2 separate regions of the Homo sapiens genome follow, and region 2 is linked to region 1. The links come from fine-mapping of genetic effects on gene expression. Tissue or cell type: whole blood. Region 1 holds a variant in brackets; the other region holds the start of a gene. All regions are shown on one strand. Distances are between the middles of the regions.

Evidence for each region. PIP is the estimated chance that this variant, and not a neighbour inherited with it, causes the effect.
Region 2: it holds the start of SLC31A2, and the variant in region 1 is fine-mapped to the expression of SLC31A2 in whole blood (INTERVAL, PIP above 0.99).

What each region holds. Positions count from the first base shown.
Region 1 is chr9:113,170,458-113,181,167 of GRCh38, forward strand. FKBP15 (FKBP prolyl isomerase family member 15) reads right to left here. Exons shown (of 28, transcript NM_015258.2): 20 at 8,173-8,344; 21 at 6,080-6,216; 22 at 3,971-4,126; 23 at 2,996-3,148; 24 at 1,124-1,249; 25 at 65-172. Among named protein-coding and RNA genes, the nearest start is that of SLC31A2, 25 kb to the left of the region's middle. The variant T/C (reference allele first, on the strand shown) is at 6,013.
Region 2 is chr9:113,145,726-113,156,435 of GRCh38, forward strand. It overlaps SLC31A2 (solute carrier family 31 member 2), which reads left to right and starts at 5,282. Exons shown (of 4, transcript NM_001860.3): 1 at 5,282-5,355. The coding sequence starts at 5,350. RefSeq lists an enhancer at 10,204-10,498.

The DNA of each region.
Region 1 (10,710 bases):
TAGAAGGTACTTAAGCAACAAAATGCCCAATACGATGAAACAAATGACAGCTGGCTGGCTGTACCTTGATCGTATTCATGATGGTTCCCAGAATGGTCCTGCCATTGTAAGATTCCTCCAGCTCAAACTCTCTCCGTAAGGACTGGAACACCTGGTTCATGATCTTCTTGACCTGTGTGAACATCAAAACACATGCTGTCAAAATCAAGTCACTAAAGGATGCATTAAATTCCAGAGAGGTGTATGGAAGGCCAAAATGAAGCCATCTTAGATCTCTACACTGGGATACTGCTGGTCATAAGCAGAGACACTGAAGGCTGTCACTGTGGAGAGGATGATATTAAATAATGAGCAGCACTTTGACAGAAGGGCTAGTCATGAGAGTTACCTATCAAGGGCAGGCAAGCTGTGGTCTGTGTGCCCAAGACTGCTTAAAGACCATTTCTTGATGTCCCCCTCCCACTGTGAGCACCACTAGGAGCTGCCATAGGCTCTAAGGGTCAGAGGCCAGTGGATGCTGGGCACACTCCCCAAGCCCCATTCTTCTTCTGTGGTTAGAGGCCCTTCCTATACCTGTCAAAACCTCAGAAAGATAGGGTTCTTTTGGGTTTGCCACTTAATATGTAAGTATGTATTTGTTTGTTTTCCCACTAGGCTGTAAGCTCCTTAAACTCAAGAACCAAATCTGGGCCGGGCATGGTGGCTCATGCCTGTAATCCCAGCACTTTGGGAGGCTGAGGCAGGCGGATCACAAGGTCAAGAGACCGAGACCATCCTGGCCAACATGGTGAAACCCTGTCTCTACTAAAAATACAAAAATTAGCTGGGTGTGGTGGCGCGTGCCTGTAGTCCCAGCTACTCAGGCGGCTGCGGCAGGAGAATCGCTTGAACCTGGGAGGCGGAGGTTGCAGTGAGCCAAGATCACATCACTGCACTCTAGCCTGGTGACAAAGTGAGACTCCGTCTCAAACAAACAAACACCAAATCTGGTTCATTTTAAAGTCATCAGACAAGTAAAACATCACTAAAGTTAGAAAAAGAGCTATTAACACAACATACTGGCCATGTTCTTTCTGAATGCTTGATATAAATGGCTTGCTTCTCATTTGAAATACCAGCTCACCTTCTCTGAGGGGTCAGATGCAGCAGCTTCAACCCCAGACATCTGGGACTTGTTCTTCTCTAGTTCCTTGATGTGCTGTTCATTTTGCTTGGTGAGAGCTGTGATTTGGGCCTGGAGGGCTAAACACTGCAAAACAAACAGACTGTGGCTGTGGCCTCAGGAACCAGGTGAAGGTCAGAAAACCCAAGGGGAGGAGAACCACCCAAACATCAAGTCTCTTTTTTTTTTTTTTGCATATAATAAAAAGACAATTTTATTTCAAATTCTTTTTTTTTATTATTATTATACTTTAAGTTCTAGGGCACATGTGCACAATGTGCAGGTTTGATGCATAGGTATACATGTGCCATGTTGGTGTGCTGCACCCATCAACTCATCATTTACATTAGGTATTTCTCCTAATGCTATCCCTCCCCCCGTCCCCCAACCCCCGACAGGCCCCGGTGTGTGATGTTCCCCGCCCTGTGTCCAAGTGTTCTCACTGATCAATTCCCACCTATGAGTGAGAACATGCAGTGTTTGGTTTTCTGTCCTTGTGATAGTTTGCTGGGAGTGATGGTTTCCAGCTTCAACCATGTCCCTGCAAAGGACATGAACTCATCCTTTTTTATGGCTGCATAGTATTCCATGGTGTATATGTGCCACATTTTCTTAATCCAGTCTATCACTGATGGACATTTGGGTTGGTTCCAAGTCTTTGCTATTGTGAATAGTGCCACAATAAACATACATGTGCATGTGTCTTTATAGTAGCATGATTTATAATCCTTTAGGTATATAACCAGTAATGGGATTGCTGGGTCAAATGGTAATTCTAGTTCTAGATCCTTAAGGAATCGCCACACTGTCTTCCACAATGGTTGAACTAATTTACACTCCCACCAACAGTGTAAAAGCGTTCCTATTTCTCCACATCCTCTCCAGAATCTCTAAACATCAAGTCTTAACCTCGCCTAGGTCTGCTGGTGTCCACTCCCTCAGCCCCCACCCACGACCCTCTGCCTCAGAGAGTTCTATCTCCTCATCATTCGACTTCAACGCAAAACTTCACTTTCTCTTTCCCAAGAAGGTTGCTTGCCTTGTTCCCAATCAGGTAAAAAATATAATGAAAAAAGAGCAGGAGGGTAGGTAATAACTAGTCATTTAGACATAAACATTCAGCATTAACAGCAACCCATTTGTCATTCATCTGCAAGATTGCCTCCAAGATCTCTGAGCCAAAAGTTTTCAACTGGACACTTTAAGGAAAGAAACTGACCTCGAATATGGACTTTCACACCATGACCCTAAGCCATGTCCCATCTCTCTTTTTCAGGCCTGATGATCCCACCACACCCCAGCCTCCATCCTATCTCAGTGCCTTTGCCCAGGATGTTCTGCCTCCTTTGCTGCCTTACCAAAGCTATTTGTCCTTCTTGGCTCTGCTCAAATGTCACCACCTTTGGGAAACCTTCCCAGCTCTCCTGGGTACTTCCTCTTCTGGGCCCCATAGCACTTAACACCTATCTTTGTTTCTTTGTCTCCCTTTCTTGACTGTGAGATACATGAGGGAAGGGTTCCTTGTATGCACTTCCTTTAACACACTGGATGGAATACAACTGACTCTCAATAAATATTTGCTTAATAAATGAAGGATCCAATAATAATGGGAAACATGTTCCGGAACACTAGTGCTGTTTTCTCTTTTTCCAGGTCACTGACCTATCACCCCACATAAGTATGTGAAAGATAACTGACAAGCTAAACAAGTGTGGTTTTGTCTTCTAGATATTAATAACTTTCAGGCTTAGAAGGATCGACAGGACTCAAACAGCCTGCTTGCCTCAAATTAACTGGGCTGCCTAAACTGTCTGACTCAAGAAAAATATGTACCTTTTCCTGAAGTTGTACCAGCTTCTGCTGGTAGGCATCTCTCTGTGCGCACACCTCCTGGTACTGCTGCAGGTGCTCATCCTTGGCGGAGGCCAACAAATGTTCACATTTTGCTTCCCACTGGGTCTGTAGCTCAGCCTGTACTAAAGACAGCTGCCAAGAGAAAGTAATGACCATATCATCCTTGGGGGTGGGGGAGTGAGATTCCATTGCACCTAGGGAAACCCATCTTTCAAAAAGCAAAAGAATAAGCTAACAGCCCAGATTTAACTGGGAAACTGTTTAAAAGACTCATTACTTTTAAAATAAATGCACTTCTTAAGATGTCATTGGTTGTCAGGACTCCAAAAGGTACTCCAAGCAGACAAAAGTGTGCCTATCTAGATAGGTCCCTGGAGGGCAGGGCCATGTGATCACTGCTTTTCAGGGTCTGAACCCTAAACTTTATAGGTTCAGAAACTTTTTTTCACCAAAATTCCCAGAGGTGGTCAAATTGAGGGCACCAATGCACTCTAATTAAACAAATGTATGCATATAAATTTTAAGCTTATAATGAGAAAGGTTGCTGTTGCACAGACTAGAGATCCAGCTGTGTCCTGCCACTATCCCTGGTTCCCTTCCTGATGACCTAAATCAATCCCTTCTTTTCAAGGATGATAATGTGCCTGAAGGATGGTGTCCAATGGTTGATGGTTTTGGCCTTACCATGTTTGGAATTTTTTTTGTAAGGAAACTATTTTTCATTTTTACTTATGTAATTAAATATTAACTAAGCTTTAAAAAAAGAAAGAAGATTCTCCATTTGATTCCTGGCTCTCCTGCACATATCTGGATTACTTTTTCTACCTTTCTCCAAAGTGAGAGTATCAGCTATGAGAAATGTCATCCTAAAGGGTAAGGAAGAAACCAGAAGCTTTTCTCTCTGAGTCCTTCACACCTTCCCTCTATTTTCAAAGTGCTTCAGTTTCCCATTACCTGCTCTGCAGCTGCTTGGTCTGTGGACACTCGAGTCTTTTTCAAGAGCTGTCGAAGTTTGTCCAATTCCTCCTGGTATGACTTGCGAATTTCATCTATCTCCTCCTCGGCCTGAGAACGCTCTTGAGCTGACTTCTTTTTCCTTTCTGAGAGGTTCTTAGGAACAAGAGAACCATCATCAGCTCTAGCTTGTTAACAGAGAATAAAGAGGGATGATGGCGGTGGCAGTTAATTACCTTGTGGAATCCTTACTCCATTTCTGAAAACTCCATTTTTTAGTTGAATTTTCCCCTAAATATTTAACATTCTTGGCTACTGGGTGAGGAAAATGGTGACAGGAGAAGGAAAACAAGAAGAGCTGTATCTACCCCTCTATTAAGAGCTAGGGAAATTGGGAGGCCGAGGCGGGCGGATCACGAGGTCAGGAGATCGAGACCATCCCGGCTAAAACGGTGAAACCCCGTCTCTACTAAAAAATACAAAAAATTAGCCGGGCGTAGTGGCGGGCGCCTGTAGTCCCAGCTACTTGGGAGGCTGAGGCAGGAGAATGGCATGAACCCGGGAGGCGGAGCTTGCAGTGAGCCGAGATCCCGCCACTGCACTCCATCCTGGGCGACAGAGCGAGACTCCGCCTCAGAAAAAAAAAAAAAAAAAAAAAAAAAAAAAAAAAAAAAGAGCTAGGGAACATCCTAACTTTAATAAAGGTACAGGAAATCAGACATTCTCATACCCTGATAGTAAGAAAACGAATGGATATACTCTCTTTGGATAGTAATCCTGTGAAAAGCCTTTAAAAACATACGTATCCAGAAATTCCACAAATTGTAATTAAGGATTCAATAAGTCATAGTCATAAAGAGTGTGTTACAAGGATGGTCACTGTAGTAGTATCTATAGTAATGACAAACTGAAAACAGCCAAGAGGTTAGAAGGAATTGGTTAAAAATAAATAAATAAAATGGAAAAAATCCTGGAAAAAAATGCAATTGCAGACCAAGATTTACCCTCTTAAAAGGCACTGGGCCAAAACAGCTTTACCTAATGAGATTTACTGAAGCCTCAGGAGCAGTTTATTATTTTCATATTTAAACGATTCCAGAACAGACAAAAAGATAGAAATGTTCTCACTTTGTTCACTTAGTATTTCCTGATATTAAAATTTTAACCAACAAAAGATACTATAAATAAAGTTAAAAGACAGCAAGCTAGAAAAATATTTACAACATCTATGACTGACAAAGGATTGATACCCTTAAAAGGGTTTACAAATCAAACTAATAATAGGAAAAAGGATAAAGGACACTAAAGAGAGAATGTACATAAGAAATACAAATAGGTATTAAATATATGAAAGCTTTACTACTAATAAAAATACACATTAAAACAAGATAACATATTTCACCTGTCAGACTAATGAAGATTAGAAAAAGTGATATATGTAGAGTGGGGAAGAATGTGACAAATGGGCTCACTCACATACTGCTGAAAGTGTAAGCACTATTCTTTGAGGATAACCTGGTAATATTTATAAAAATTCAAATATGTAGCCTTCCCTTTGATCCCATGATTCTTACTCATGCAATCCATCACGTAGGAATGCTCAAACAAATTTGCAAAAACAGTTATATAATATGAGAATGTCCATAGAAGCAGTGCTTAAAATAATGAAAAAATAAAAACATAAATATCCATCGATAGGCAAATCATTAAACAAATTATGGTACAGCCTCATAGTAGGCTACTATGCAGCAGTTAACTACGAGTGAGAAAGATCTCCTTCTTATGTAGTACAAGTCCATGACATTTTCCTAAAAAACATTAAACGTGATACCACTACTGTAAAAAAAGTTGTCAGTATACATACATGTATGTGTGTGAGAGTGTGAATGTATGTTTTCTACATACAGAAAACAATCTGGAAGGATCATACACTTTATAACTGTCACCTTCAATGTATGAGATTAGAGCGGGGAAAATTTTTTTTTAATTTTACACTTTTCTATATTATTTGTATTTGTTACAATAAGCACATACTATTGTAA[T/C]TTGTAAAAGGAAAATAAAAATGTTTATTAAACAGCTAATTCTGGCCAACTGGGTTGTAGAGCTTACCTTTTCCAAGGACTCCTTCTCAACTCGAAGGTCAGTCAGTTCCTCCTCCAGGGATGTCACCTTGAGTTCCAGTTGTTTCCGGTTCTGCTTTTCACTTTTGAATTTGGACTGTGCTTGCTCAGAGGTTTCTTGGAGCTCTGGGATACAGGAGCAGAGAGACTTCGCTACAGAACCAAAGCTGTAATGGGCTATGTGTTATCCCAGCAGCTCTTTTTTTAAATTATTTTTTGGAGACAAAGCCTTGCTCCATCACTCAGGCTGGAGTGCAGTGGTGTGATCATAGCTCACTATAGCCTCCATCTCCTGGGCTCAAGCAGTCCTCCTGCCTCAGCCTCCCAGAGTGCTAGGATTACAGGCGTGAGCCCCTGCGCCTGGCCCCAGTGGCTCTTTCAAAGCCGCGTGCTTTGATTTCCCAATCCTACCACACAAGCAGCCTCTGCTCACTTCTTTCAACATCACCTCACTGACCAGCAATAAGATTTGTCAAGCCGTCAGCTGACTCCCTCATCAACCCATATTTATCCCATAGAAAGTCATCTCTGTGTATACATGTCACCTTCTCCACATACGAAATGGAAAGGACATGTTCCCAGCAGTCAGAAATGACCTTTGAAACAGATAACTCTCATAAGTCCATTTTGGCCACCATCTTAACACACTGGACCAATCATTGTTTAGTATTAGTCCAGGTTCTTTCTCACTGCTTGAGTAAGATAGTCTCAACTTTCTTGGTAGCTGGGACATTCTACCAAGAATTTGCTTTCAAAGCATCCCTTCTCAAATAAAGCTCTTTGAAATAAATAAAATTTGTTTGGGAAACTTTTGAGACTCTTATGACTCTTGAGGTAATTGTCATAAGGCACCACAAAAGCAGAAATGAGACATTTGAACAACATTCAAATCTAAGACTGTCTAACACATTTGCCTCATGTGGGCCCAGTCATGCTCTAAAAGGGAAGAGATGGGCTGGGAGCAATGGCCAATGCCTGTTAATCCCAACGCTTTGGGAGAACAGGGCGGAAGGATGGCTTGAGGTCAAGAGTTCACAACCAGCCTGGTCAACATAGTAAGACTCCTGTCTCTACAAAATATAAAAAATTTTTAAAAAAATAAAAGGGAAGGGATGTATCTTCAAGGTAGCACCTTACCAATTGACATCATTGTTTTTTAGTTCTCTATTAGGCAAATGAACTTTGCTTCCACCCAACTCTGCTGCTGCTCCAGCTACCCCCTGCCCACTAGTCCCATGTCTGCCTTCCATATTTGTTTCCATAAACCAAGGTAGATTAATCAACCTGCTGGTCTTCACAAATCTTCTATCCAATCACCATGTCTTGCCAGGCACTGAACTAACACTAATATGGAGGAGAGGACTTTACAAAGATGAGCAAAACACCATGCTTATCAAACTGTGATAAGGGTTATAATAATGCACTATGAGATAAAGGATTTTTTTTTAAAGAGATCAAATGTTCTAGAGAAAACTAGGAAAGCTTCTGAAAGAGGCAGATTTTGAAGAGGACTAAAAGCGAATATTGGTAATGGTGGGCATGTCAAGTCCAGAGAATAGCATGGATAAGAAGCAAGACAAGAACTACAGGATGAGCTGAAGAGCAGCCAGCAGGCTTGCTGGCATGGTCAGGGCCAGGATGAACTGGACAATATAACGGGAGACAAGCCAAGCAGGATGGGCCTTGAGTGTGAGGCTGAAGAGTTGCAATCCATCTTCTAGGAAAGAAGAAACCACACCAGGAAGCATTTCTTTTTTAAACTTCCACTGAGTCATGAGTTAGAACAACACATCAACTATTCCAGGCATTTGAAGCCAATCATAAGTACCAAAGATTTTGAAGCCAACACCTCCCCAAACAAAAGGGAACTGTGGCACTGATCAATTCCACATGAATAGTCAGTTCTTTTGCTGTTCCTTCTGTAAAACAATCATGTAGGTTTTATACTAGTCTCCTTTAATTTTTGGTGTAGTCCTTCAAAAACTTCATGAGCATCATGCCAAAAAAATTGAGAGGAAGAAAACAGCTTAATTCCTTGAGTTTAAATGGCAACAATCCCAGCATCCCCCACCTAGCACATACCTGAGAGCTTTGCCTGCACTTTGGTGAGCTGGCCCCTGAGAAGATCTGTCTCCTTCAGGCTTTCTGTCAGCTGCATCTGCAGCTCTGTTTCCTTTTTTTGGTGAGCAGTCATTTTCAGCTGCAGATGAGAGACCTGTGCAGTGGCCGCTGCTAACTCCTCTGTCACCTTGGCCTGAATAATAACAAAGTATGATGTCACTTTAAACATAGGTGTTCTCCATGCAGGTGATGAACCAACCTCACATAACTCTATGTAGACTGAACTAGTAAACAGGGAGTTATGGCTGCCTTCAACCTGCATTAAACCAAATTCAAATTATGGGGTGGACCATCTCTCCTATACAATTATATTACTACTACTATTATGACTCCTATACTATTATACCTATACCAGTATACTTAAAATTTTTTTTTTTTTAGAGATGGGGTCTCGCTCAGTCACCCAGGCTAGAGTGCAATGACACGACATAGCTCACTGTAGCCTCGGACTCCTGGGCTCAAGCAATCCTCCCACCTCAGCCTCTGGAGTAGCTGGGACCACAGGTGCAAGCTACTATGCCTGTCTCTATTATACCTTACATACATTTTCACAGTTGTCTATTTCCTTATTATCATTTGTCTCTTCTTACTGTGTTCACTGTACCCACTTGTTTTAAATATATTTATTCCTCGCCTTATTCCAAAGTCTTTATCGGTTTTATAGATTGCATTTAAAATCTGATATTTTGACTCTCCTAAAAAAAGAAAATAAAGGCCGGGCGCAGTGGCTCGCGCCTGTAATCCCACCACTTTGGGAGGCCGAAGCGGGCAGATCACGAGGTCAGGAGTTCGAGACCAGCCTGACCAACATGGTGAAACTCGGTCTCTACTAAAAATACAAAAATTAGCCAGGCATGGTGGTGGGCGCCTGTCATCCCAGCTACTCGGAGGCTGAGGCAGGAGAATCACTTGAACCTGGGAGGCAGAGGTTGCAGTGAGCTGAGATCGTGCCACTGCACTCCTGCCTGGGCAACAGAGCAAGACTCCATCTCAAAAGAAAAAAAAAAAAAACAAGAAAACAAAATTGTATATAAAATAAAAATAACATGCCACTGCTCTGCCTGTGGGGTAATCATTCTTTTATTCCTTCACTTAATAAACTTGCTTTCACTTTAAAAAATAAATAAATAAAAATAAATAGGCTATAAATGAGTATCTGAGAGTATATGTAACCTTTAGACTAAGCTTTAAGATACTTATTTTTGCTATTCAGTAGCCTTAGGTTTTCACCTGCTAAACACAGATGACAATGAAATCTAGAAGTTCCAGATATAGGAGTGGCTTTCATCTACTCATTGTCCTGCTTCAAATGGCCTAATGAAAACAAAACTAACTCAGAGCTCAGAGAGCTTTGCATCTATTCATAGCTCAGAGTTCACTAATAACAGAACATGCACCTCTCTCATAAGGACTTGCAGCAGCTAAAACACTGGAAGGGACAAATTCCAAAGGCGTGCCAATGAAATGCAGGGTTACTCTCTTGCTAAAGGTTAAGCAGAGTAGAAAATCACCCAAAAGCTCTTTTTATCTCAGGTCCTTAGCTAGAAAGGCCTCTCAGAAGCATAAAAATTAATGCTGTCCCCCAAATGTACATGTACACAGAAAATAAGGGAATGGATAAGATATTAATAATCATTATTTTTGAGTGGAAGGATTTATATTTTATGTTTGCTTATCTGTATTTCTAAATTTTCCAGACTGAACAGATGCAACTTTTATGATCAGAAAAAAATGTGTGTGTGTGTGTGTGTGTGTGTGTGTGTGTATAGGTGTACTTATAATTTTTTTTTAAGGTCAGGGTATAATCAAGTGAGAAGGGAAAACACAAAAAAATCTACACCCTGGTTCCTACCCTGGATCAAATTCTACTGCTGACATGGAGAGTGAGAAAAAGAAAGCAATGACAGGAAGAACTAACAGTTCAGAAAAACAGTGAAAAAAAGCATGCAAGGTAGAAGCAGGAAAATAGTACTCAAGAGAGATAATAATTTGACACAGGAAAAGGAATATAGCTGAATGGAAATGGGGTCCTATGCAGGTCTTTTACCCTTTCATTCTCTGATCCTTGGTCTGTCCCTGTAAAATAAAAAGGTTAAACTAAGAAGGCAACCTCTAATAGCTCTTCCAGTTTTAGCCATTATTCCACGATTTTTTGTGGTACTATTATATCACAGTGAAAAATAATTTCATTTACCAAATATTCATTGAGCCCTTAACCATACTTTTCTGAGCTGTGTCTGAAGGCAGAAAATTGCCTCCAGGGACAAAAGGACCTTGCCCATCTCCCTTTAAAAGGAGAGATCACCAGGAAAACTGTTAAGTGAGAAGTGGATCAAAAGAAAAAGAGGGGAGAGTCAAGGCTCAAAAAGTTTCATTGAAATAAAGATGATCAAGTAAAACATGTGGTACTTGGCATCCCAGTCATATGCATCAAGAGATTCCCTAAAAAATTTGTGTGAAACATGGTATCTATAACACAGTGGGTTGTGGCAGATATTA
Region 2 (10,710 bases), 25 kb before region 1:
ACCAGCTTCTCCCTAGCTGTCTCCCCCACGGCAATGTGTCAGAGACAGGTGGTTTACATCTGCTAGGCATTCTTCCTTCTCAGACTCAGGCACAGTGGGTGGGGAGTCTACCTACAGTGGCCTCAGCTATTGGTTGAACTATATATGAAATTGCCTTTTTTTTTTCAGGTTAAAAATGGTCAAATGTCAGCCATTTCATCTGGTCAAATGAATACTTTACCTTACTCCAAAAGATAAGTCAGAAGATTTTTCCAGTTGGGTCCTTCCTCCAGCACCAAATGATCATTTGGTTTGTGATACATTGGGAGTCAAAATATACATAGTAGATCAACATGGGGATATCAACAAGATGCTCCTGTTTGAACGGTTTTAGGGTTCCTGGGGGTGAAAATCCGTTTATTTCTTCAAGATGAGGAAAACCTGCTGTAGAGGAAATTTACTGTACACAAGCTGAAACCCGCTTTGCCAAATCTCTGTAAGATTAGGAAATGGCGTACAGTCGGGATCAGGTAGAGATTTTTGGGGATACGTTCAGAACTCTGAATGCAGCAGGAAGCCTACACAGGGACAGAGAGAGGGGGTCCATTCCTATCTTCTTTTCATGAGACTGAAAAGAAGTACAGGGCCAAGCTTCTAGATAAGCACTCACTTTTTTAAAACATTGTATTTATAGATCCACATTCACTGCAGCATTATTTACAATAGCCAAAAGGTGAAAGCAACCCAAGTGTCCATCAGTGGATGAATGAATTAGCAAAATATCATATATACTTACAAAGAAATGTTATTCAGCCTTAAAAAGGAAGAAAAGTCTGATACCTGCCACACTATGGACAAACTTTAAGGACATTATGTTAAGTGAAATAAGTCAGTCACAGAAGGACAAATACTATGTGATTCCACTTAAGAGGTATCGAGAGACATTCAAATCATAGAGATACAAAGTAGAATGGTGGTTGTCGGGGGCAGGGGGAGAAGGGAATAGGGAGTTGTTAAATGTTCATAGAATTTCAGTTTTACAAGATGAAAAGCATCTTGGATATGGGTTACATGATGTATAATTAATGAATATAATTAACAATACTGAACTGTACACTTAAAATAGTTGAGAGCAAATTTTATGTTGTGTGTGTGTTTGTTGTTGTTGTTTTGTTTTGTTTTGAGATGGAGTCTCACTCTGTTGCTCAGGCTGGAATGCAGTGATGTGATCTCTGCTCACTGCAGCCTCTGCCTCCCAGGTTCAAGCAATTCTTCTGCCTCAACTTCCCAAGTAGCTGGGATTACAGGCACCCATTACTACGCCCAGCTAATTTCTGTATTTTTAGTAGAGATGGGGTTTCACTATATTGGTCAGGCTGGTCTCAAACTCCTGACCTCAAGCGATCTGCCTGCCTCAGCCTCCCAAAGTGCTGGGATTACAGGCGTGAGCCAACATGTCTGGCCTATGTTATGTGTATTTTGCCGCAAGTTTGCTTAAAAAGTATTTGTAAATTTGCTGTCGTCAGCTGGATGGGACATGGATGGCTGTTTTTCAAACCTGTTTACCCTGCAAATGTGGGGCAGTCTGAGCATTGGCCTTCCAAGCTCAGTGCAGCATTGTTGGAGAAACCAGGGCCCCTCAGTCTTCCTGCAGGAGGCAGGCATGCAGGGCCTGGGAGTCCCGGGCAGCTGGAGTAGACAACCTTGCAGCAGCTGTGAAAGGAACCTGTCAAGACAACTGAGGTAAAGAGCCTATACCTGTGAATTCTCAGGGGTGTTTCCCTCCTCAGCCCTGGCTTCAACAGTGAAGGGATCCTCACAGCACTTACCTTCCCTGCAAAGCTAAAACAAACCATTGCTTTCTTCTCAGCTGTCCAGAGGCCTGCTGTTTGCTCTGGTTTGGCTCAAAGCCCTTCCAGACAGTCAGGAAAGTTATAAATGTGGATGACCCCTACAATTGGCTGGATAATGGCCCTAAAAATTATCCAGGTCCTGATGGTCGGAACCTGTGAATGTTATCTGGCAAAAGAGACTTTGCGCACGTGATTAAATTAAGGATCTTGAAATGGGGACATAACCCTGGATTATCTGATGGGTCCTAGATGTAATCATAAGGATCTTTAAAAGAGGGAGGCAGCCAGGCGTGGTGGCTCATATCTGTAATCCCAGCACTTTGGGAGGCCGAGGCGGGCAGATCACGAGGTCAGGAGATCGAGACCATCCTGGCTAACACGGTGAAACCCCATGCTACTAAAAAACAAAACAAAACAAAACAAAATACAAAAAACTAGCCAGGCGTGGTGGCAGGTGCCTGTAGTCCCAGCTACTCGGGAGGCTGAGGCAGAACGGCATGAACCCGGGAGGCGGAGCTTGCAGTGAGCCGAGATCATGCCACTGCACTCCAGCCTGGGAGACAGAGCGAGACTCTGTCTCAAAAATAAACAAAAAAATTTGTTAAAAATTAGCTGGGCATGCTGTAGTCCCAGCTACTCAGGAGGCTAAGCTAAGGCAGGAGGATCACTTGAGGCCAGGAGTCTAGACTGCAGTGAGCTATCATTGCAATAATGCACTTCAGCCTGAGTGACAGGGCAAGACCCTGTCTCTAAAATAAATAAATAAATTGGGTGGTCAGAGTGGCCTCACTAAGAGAGTGACATTTGGGAAAAAAGAAAAAGAACAAAATGCAGTGAGAAAACATACATATTAAAAACCCATTGGTAGTTCCTTCTTGTCCCAGAGTAAATTCCTGACTTTCAACACAGCCTCCGGGTTGTTGGCGGCCTGGCTCCTGCTTCCTCCAGCCTTACCAGCACAAGATCCAGTAAACACTAGCCCCCACGACACGCACACCCACTGTCTCCACACAGGCCAACCTTGAATGTGCACGCTCCTCCTGTGTCACACACATCAGATCCACAATACTGCTCATGGCATAAATATAAAATAATAGAGGTATCGTTGGAGAGAAGATGGAAGGCTAGTTGATGGAGTTAACAGGGAAAATATGCAAAGGTCCTGGCCATAACATGTTCAACTCCACCCTCAGGCTCACTTATAACTGCAGATCAGCACGTGGAGGGCAGTTGCAGGTCATCCATTCCACCCCTCACTGTACGGATGGGGACATCGAGGTCCCAGAGACGGGCAGTGGCATCCTTGGGGATCACACAGCCTTACCTACACATAAAGACCCAACATTCTGCAGGAATTACATGTTGTGCATGTGGTCTTTTCATGAGTCTCAAGTTCCTCTACTGAACCTCAGAAGGAGAAATGACTGGTTGGATTTCCGCTCTATCAACTGACTACAAATGAGCCCAGGTTAAAGGGCCTCTAAATAATCTTTGTGACACTCAAGGCAGTGCCATCTTTCCTGAGTGGGGATTCTGTCTCGGGGGGTCTAGGTGTGCTATGGAAAGACAACAACAGACTATTGCTCCGTGAAAGGAGGGGAGTCATGGGCTGTCAAAACACAGAATCCGGAATCTCTTGCCATGGACCCAGGCTTGGGTGGCTGTGTTGTGATCTTATGATCTAGGATCCCATGGTTTGCAACAAGCTCTCTGCCTGGGGGACAGGGAAGGAGTGCCTCTGGTGGTACAGAAAGAAATTTTAGGACTCCCTGGCTAAGTGTTGTAACCAAAACATCCATGAGGAAGTTAGAAGTAAGTGTAAAGGTCATCAGATTGTGACAAAGCCAACAAAAACCGTCAAATGAATAAAGCTGTGTTGCAGATTCTTCAATGCAGGTGGGGGGAGTGGGGTGCACCAGAGCCCACTTATGTGAAGGTCAGATTATCTTACTCCTGCTTCCCATGTAAGGCCCAGAGAGGTGAAAAGCTACACCCAAAGCCCTCCCCAGCTCTTGGAACCCAGATGCTTCAGAGATACCCTTAGCCCTTCTCCCCAGTGCTTCCCCATGGCCCAGTAAACCATGACAGCAGCAGCTCTCCCTCTCCAGCCCCATCACAGTGCCACGGCCCATGTTCTCTCCCTGAAGCTGCTCCATTAGCTTTCAGACTGAGAATCTTAAAAGCTGTGTGGGCCGGGCAAGATGGCTCACGTCTGTAATCCCAGCATCCCAGCACTTTGGGAGGCCGAGGCGGGCAGATTACGAGGTCAGGATTTCAAGACCAGCCTGACCAATATGGTGAAACCCCGTCTCTACTAACAATACAAAAATTAACCAGGCATGGTGGTGCGCGCCTGTAGTCCCAGCTACTCGGGAGCCTGAGGCAGGAGAATTGCTTGAACACGGGAGATGGAGGTTGCAGTGAGCCAAGATCGCGCCACTGCACTACAGCCTGGGCGACAGAGCGAGACTCTGTTTCAAAGAAAAGAAAAAAAGCTGTGTGACCCTGAGGATTCTACCATTTACTGAACAAGCTCCCACTGCCAGGTTACATGATAATTTAACATGTATGTTTTCATTTAATCCCTATGACATAGATTTTATTATTATTTTCATTTTACTGACCAGAAAACTGAGGTTCAGAGATGTAAGCTATTTGCCTACGGTCCCAAAGCCAATAGTTGATGCGTATGGATGTGAACTGAGGTTAGCTCCAGGCTCAAGGTCTCTGCTAATACTGTCCTTAGTAAGGTTTCTCTGAAGAGCCTCTTTACTCATAGGCTGATTAGCAAAGGGTTCCTAAATATGCTTAAGAATCAATAACCATTAAAAATCCCTCACCCTACAAGAAACTCCCCATCAAAAAACTGGATCAGTGAAATGAACAGGCAATACACAGAAATGGAAGTACCCGTAAGAAAAATAGTTTACTACCCTAGTAATCAAAGAAAAACAAAATTACACGGGTGTATTCCTTTTGGCTTATCAGATTGGAAAATATTTTTCTAAAAAGAAAAATGTAATTATCTTGTAATGACTACACTAAAAATCTAGGGCATAATTGACTTAATTTACTCCAAATGTGTTGCTATTGCGTCCATAGCACGGACTTGCCCATTTCAACTCAATATATGTTACGCTTGGGGTAGTTTATTACAATGAGCAATAAACATTCTCATAATCGCCAAGACAAGCCAAGTGCAAAACAGGAAGGGCGAAGACAGAGGGCAGCAGGTGGTCCCTCTCGCTCGCGACTCCGGGAACGCCAAGCCTCAGCCCTTGGGAACCTGGGGCGAGGCGCCTGGGTCTCGGCCAGGGGGCGCGCCCGAGGACGCCGAAGTAGGGCGCGTGTGGGGACCACAACTCCCAGGCGCCCGCGCGCCGCCTCGCCCGGACCACGTGATCCGTGCGGCCAGGGTAGCTATCGCGGCGGCGGCGGCGGCGGCGGTTGAACTGACTCGGAGCGAGGAGACCCGAGCGAGCAGACGCGGCCCTGGCGCCCGCCCTGCGCACTCACCATGGCGGTAAGGGCCGGGCGCTACGGTGAAGAGGGTGGGCGGTTGGGGCGGGGTCTCCTGGAGCTGCCATCTCGGCACCCCGAATCCTCGCTGCCGCTGGCCCGGGGCTGGTGAAGGGTGTGTTGGCAGCATTGCCAACAGCTGGAACAGGGTTGGGGGACGCGGCAGGTATAGGTTGCGGTGGCTCTGTGGTTTTCCTCTTTATTTGTCCCTCCTGCTGGGAGGCAGTCCGGCTAGGCGAGCAGTTACCGAGCGCCCGCGGTGGCGCGGCTTGAGAGTGGGGGCGCGGTGGCTGAAGACAGCTGGGTCCGGGGCCCCCGGCCCCGGACCTCTGGCCGGCGCCCCAGGGCGGAGAGCAGCGCCTTGGGAGATTCCAGGAAGGCTTCCACGAAAGGGAAACCCCCGGCGCATTTCAGCCCGCAGCCCCGCGCGCACACCGAGCGCACATCCCCGGCCCTGCTCTTGTCAAGTTTGTAGCCTGATTCTTCGGGGAATAAAACAGAACCAGCTACTTTCCAGCTTCCCTACACTTTCAGTCAGAAAACAGCGTTTCAGACAAGCTGTTTTTCTTGGTAGGGTTCACCTGGGCTGGAGAGAACGACAGCTTGCAAGACTCGTTCGTCTTTGAAGAAGTCATATCATTTTCTTCATCCCATGAAGAATGTCATAGAATTTAAGATACAGGAAGCTCAGCCTGGGCAACATAGCTAGACCCCGTCTCTACAAAAATTAGCCACAAGTGGTGGCAGGCGCCTGTAATCCCAGCTACTCGGAGGCTGAGGCAGGATGAGGAGGATTGCTTGAGCCCAGAAGTTCCAGGCTGCAGTGAGCCATGACCTTCGGCCTGGGCAACAGAACAAGACGTCCTCAAACAAACAAAACAAAAAAAAAAAGATATAGGAAGTGTATGTAGGCCATTTAGTGAAATGATCAGCCGTCCTTTAAAAAGGGAAATAGATGGAAAGCACTTGCAAAAGTTCCCCAGCCAGTCAGCCTAGCAACTGGGACCTTCATCTCCTTCCCAACCCTTGTTTACAAATAAGGAAGCTTTTCTCAAAGTGTAAGTAACCCCAAATGAAGAAATATAGAAGAAAACAAGTTCCAGGGATTGCTCCCTCCTTCACCACAGCCCCACCCTGAAAAAAGCACAAATCAGTTAAACTTTCAGAGGCCAAGATTCATCCCAAGTAGGAAAACAAGATTGGGGCCCTGCCCCTTGCCTATCTGACCACAAAGCCCTTTAATTGAAAACTGTAGCCCAGATCGCTTCTCTCAAGTCAGGGTGTGCTGACTTCCATCTTTTCCTCTAGCAAAAAGGCAAAAGTAGAAAGGGTTGAGTGACAGGTGAGTCTTCGTCCCTCTGGGGCTTCGGACTCCGTGGGTGTTTCCAGCTCTGAACAAACCATACAGTTCATCTTCCCAGCTATCTCCTGCTTCTCTGGCTTCAGAACCATCCTAGCCAACTGCTCTCTGGCCAGGGCAGGTGTCTCTCAGGCGGCTTGGTCCCCAGCACCCCCAGGGAGCCTCCACTGTGCCTCCCTTTCTCTGACCTACAACCTGTTGTAATTATTTGCTCACTTAAATGTCCCCCCTCATAGACAGGTAGCTCCCTAAGGGCCAAAGACTTGTCCCATTCATCTCTGTATCGCCAGGGTCTGCACAGACCTAGCACAACAAAAAGAAATCTTTCAAATTACTCTTACTGTTCTGTGGGTGTTCAGGTCTATGGCAAAACATGTCTGGGCTGTTTTGGGCTCCTAAGATAACTGGCCCAGGCCCAAGGATGATAGAAGGAAACCAGTTATGGCAACTCCCTGACTGATTAATTAGCCACTAGGGACATTCCATTCATACCATCTGCTTTACCAAATGGACTCAGAGAAGGGGTGATGGGTGTCACCCCTACCTCTACCTGGCAGAGATGGTGCTAGAGGCTTCTGCTGAGGATGAGGCCATCTCCGGTGTAAATGGAGTTTCACAGTATTGTTTGTACCTGTTTGGTTTTGTATATCAATCTTGCGTAAACATTTTGCTGTGTCAAAATGTTTTTTTTTTTTTTGAAAGCCTAACAGGAGAGATCTCTGAGTAGTAAGACTCAAAATGATTTTTTACTTTCTTTTCGGTACTGTGTCAGCTTTTTACATTGAGCTAGTGCCATTGGGGGTGGGGGGTAAAAGCTATTCTTATTTTTAAACTCTTCAACATTTTTTAAAGTCTTCAACATGATCTTTATCATGTTGTGATGTGACCGCCTAGATTTCCATTTTGAAGCTCTCATATAATTTACTTGACCAGTCCCTACTGGTTGACAGGAGACCATCATGGTTCCTATGATTTCTCAAAGTGTGACCCCCAACAAACACCTGTCCTAGAAACACCTGTCCCAGAAACACCCAGTACACTAAGGTTTGAGAACCAGTACAGGCTTTCCAGAAAACTCTCTGGCTCTGGGTACCTGATTGCCGAGTGACCATGGGGAGATAAGTGGGCTTTTATGTACCTTCCTTGTTAAAGAGGTTAATAATAGTAGGCACCTGCGGAGATGTCACAGGGAGTGACACATAATAAATGGAAGGTGAACGTGGTACAGGCACATGCAGTCCCTCAGAAGACACAGAGCTGTGTGGCTGTTCTGTCCAATCAGATGCTTTCACATTTCTTTCTCTGTCCTGCAGCTCCACGGTCTCCAGTGAGCCCAGTCCCTGGGTAGGCGCAGGCAGGGGTTGGTGACACAAGTCAGACCCCTTTTGGCACTGAAAGGCATGTTAGCTGAGTGTAGGGAGTAGAACAGCCAGGTTAGTCCCAGGTCTCTACCAAACCCCAGGCTGCAGCGTCCAAATCTGAGAGATGCATAGATGTGGTGCCCCATCCAACCCGGAAACAGAGGCACACTCACTGTTATTGTTGTTGTTTTTGAGACAGAGTCTTACTCTATTACTCAGGCTGGAGTGCAGTGGCATGATCTTGGCTCACTGCAACCTCCACCTCCCGGGCTCAAGTGATCCTCCCACCTCAGCACCTCCCAAGTAGCTGGGACTACAGGCACATGCCACCACACCCAACTAATTTTTGTATTTTTTGTAGAGACAGGGTTTTGCCATGTTGCCCAGGCTAGCACTTTTTTCTTTTACAAGGTTTCAGGAAGAGTAGATAGAGTTCAAGATGGGAGCCTGTGAAAGTGAGGCCAAACCAAGGGAAAGGGTTCCTAGAGTCCTGTCCTCATCTTACAGACGAGGAGACTGGGTCCACAGGGGGCTTTCTGCGTGTCAGCAGCTCAAGGCCACGCAGCTGGTTCCTGGCAGAGCTGGGAGGGAGATCCAGGCAGTGCAGCTTTAGAGACCGTGCCCCTAACCACTAGCCTTGCTGCCTCTGTTCAAACTGCAACAAAGTGAACTGAGCCTCAGAATCTCCTGAAGGGGGCTGGTTAAAATCTATGTCTTCCCTGTCTCCTGTGGCTCTGACCCTGGACTCTGATTTAGGGGCCTGAGGAGGCCCAGGAATCTGTACTTTTAATAAGGCCCTGGAGTCTAAGCAGCTGCTGCTGTCCCTCTACACTAAGCCGCTTGCCAGTGTGGAGCTCATGATTGGCCTGTGGTTTCCCAGTGATTCACCCGGGACTGACTCTGCCTCTGTGGATCCGGCTATAACAGCATCGTCATCCACACCTGTGATCCGCTCCAGTGTCCTCCCTCCCACCCTATCCTCTTTGCCTTTTCATCCTGTTGTCCGCTGTTGTCCCTGGGCTCTGGTCTTACTGTCCCATCCCCAGACTGGTCCTTGTTTGTTTCCTTTATTTAAGGTGCACTCTTCATCTTTCTCAGGAAATATGGGCCAGCTATTGGCTGAACATCCTTCGGGGGCTAAGCATGACTATCCTAATTGCACAGAGGCTTTTTCTCATACATTCCTTCCTCTCCCCAATTTCTTCCCATATTTTGTTCCAAAGTGGCCATATCAGTTTCTTCTGCTGTTTGCATATCTTCCTGAAATGTTAAAACAACCGAACGACAGCACAGCCCTCATCTCTGTCTAGTATTGCACAAGAAAGTGGGCTGTTCTCTGTGTTGTAGCATCTGTTTTCCTCTTGCCAAATGAGGGCCTGGTAAGAAGACCCAGGATCCAGTCCTGATGCTGCCACCAACTCACAGTGTGACCCTGGGCATGTCACAGCTGCCCCTTGGACTTCCAGTGCTGCCCTGAGAAGCTGCATTGAGAGCAGTTAGGAGCACAGAATCTGAAACCAGCCCACCCAGGCAAAATTCTAGCTAGCAACTTGGCAAGTTACTTAAACTCTGTCTGCCTTAGTAGTCTCATCTATGAAATGGAGCTAAGAATAATAATTCCCCTCTTGAAATTGAGTGAGTTAAGACATATAACATTTTTAGAAGAGTGCCTGGCACAGAATAATCAGTGTCATTTCCCTCCCAGCATGAAAAAAGAGGGTTGCTCTAAATTAGCACTTCCTAGAGGATAGTCTATGAGATTCTTTCCCACAGGGCACTCAGCAAGAGAAAAAGGGGAGGAGAGAGTTCTGGGTACAGGCTTCTGGCAGTGCAGAAAGCTATTAAACCTTATTTTGTCTAATTCCAGTCTCTCTCAAACTCCCTTGACCATAGAATCCATTTTTCCCAGTACCTCCTAGCATCCTGTACTTCTCCCATGGAACACTTCTGAGAAACACCCCTCCAGCTTTGACATGTATGGGAAAAAAAGGCACTGGGGTTATTGAGCCCTTACTGTGTGTCACTTTGTGTGGATGGCTTTGCAGAGTTTTCCCCCAGCTCCCCTCGGAGGAAACTGAGGCCAGAGAGAGGCCCTGGTTAACAAATGTGTTTTGTTCCAAATCCTGGACTCAGACTACTATTCTTTACTATCTCCTTTGGTCCTAACTGTTGAGAGGGGGAGGATTGGAGACGACTAGAACATGCAAGGCCTGTGGTTTAGGGCTGTCGTCTGCAAGCAGAAGTTTGTGGCTCTGGTTTCCAGGAGGCTACAGGACACCCACATGGCACAGCTTCCTGACAAAATGGCAGCTAATCAAATCTGCCTACCTTTCCACCCCCACACTGACGTTTGCCTCCACCGGAACTCCTTTTCTGTAAGAACTGATGGCCCCCACAGCCTTCACAAGTACCCACAGTCTCACTCCATATCTTCCTCCCTTGAACAGAAACTGAGAGTAACCCGCTTATAAGGAGGTCCGGCAAATCCTTTTCCCTCTTCATACTCATTTTCCTCACCTGGAAATGAGAGGGGGTGGAGAGGGACTCAAGTTGGGCCAGATCAGCATTTTTCAAACTGAGTTTCATCAGAGCTCATATTTCTCTCCCCTCTCCACCCTGAGCCCCGTGTTTTACATAA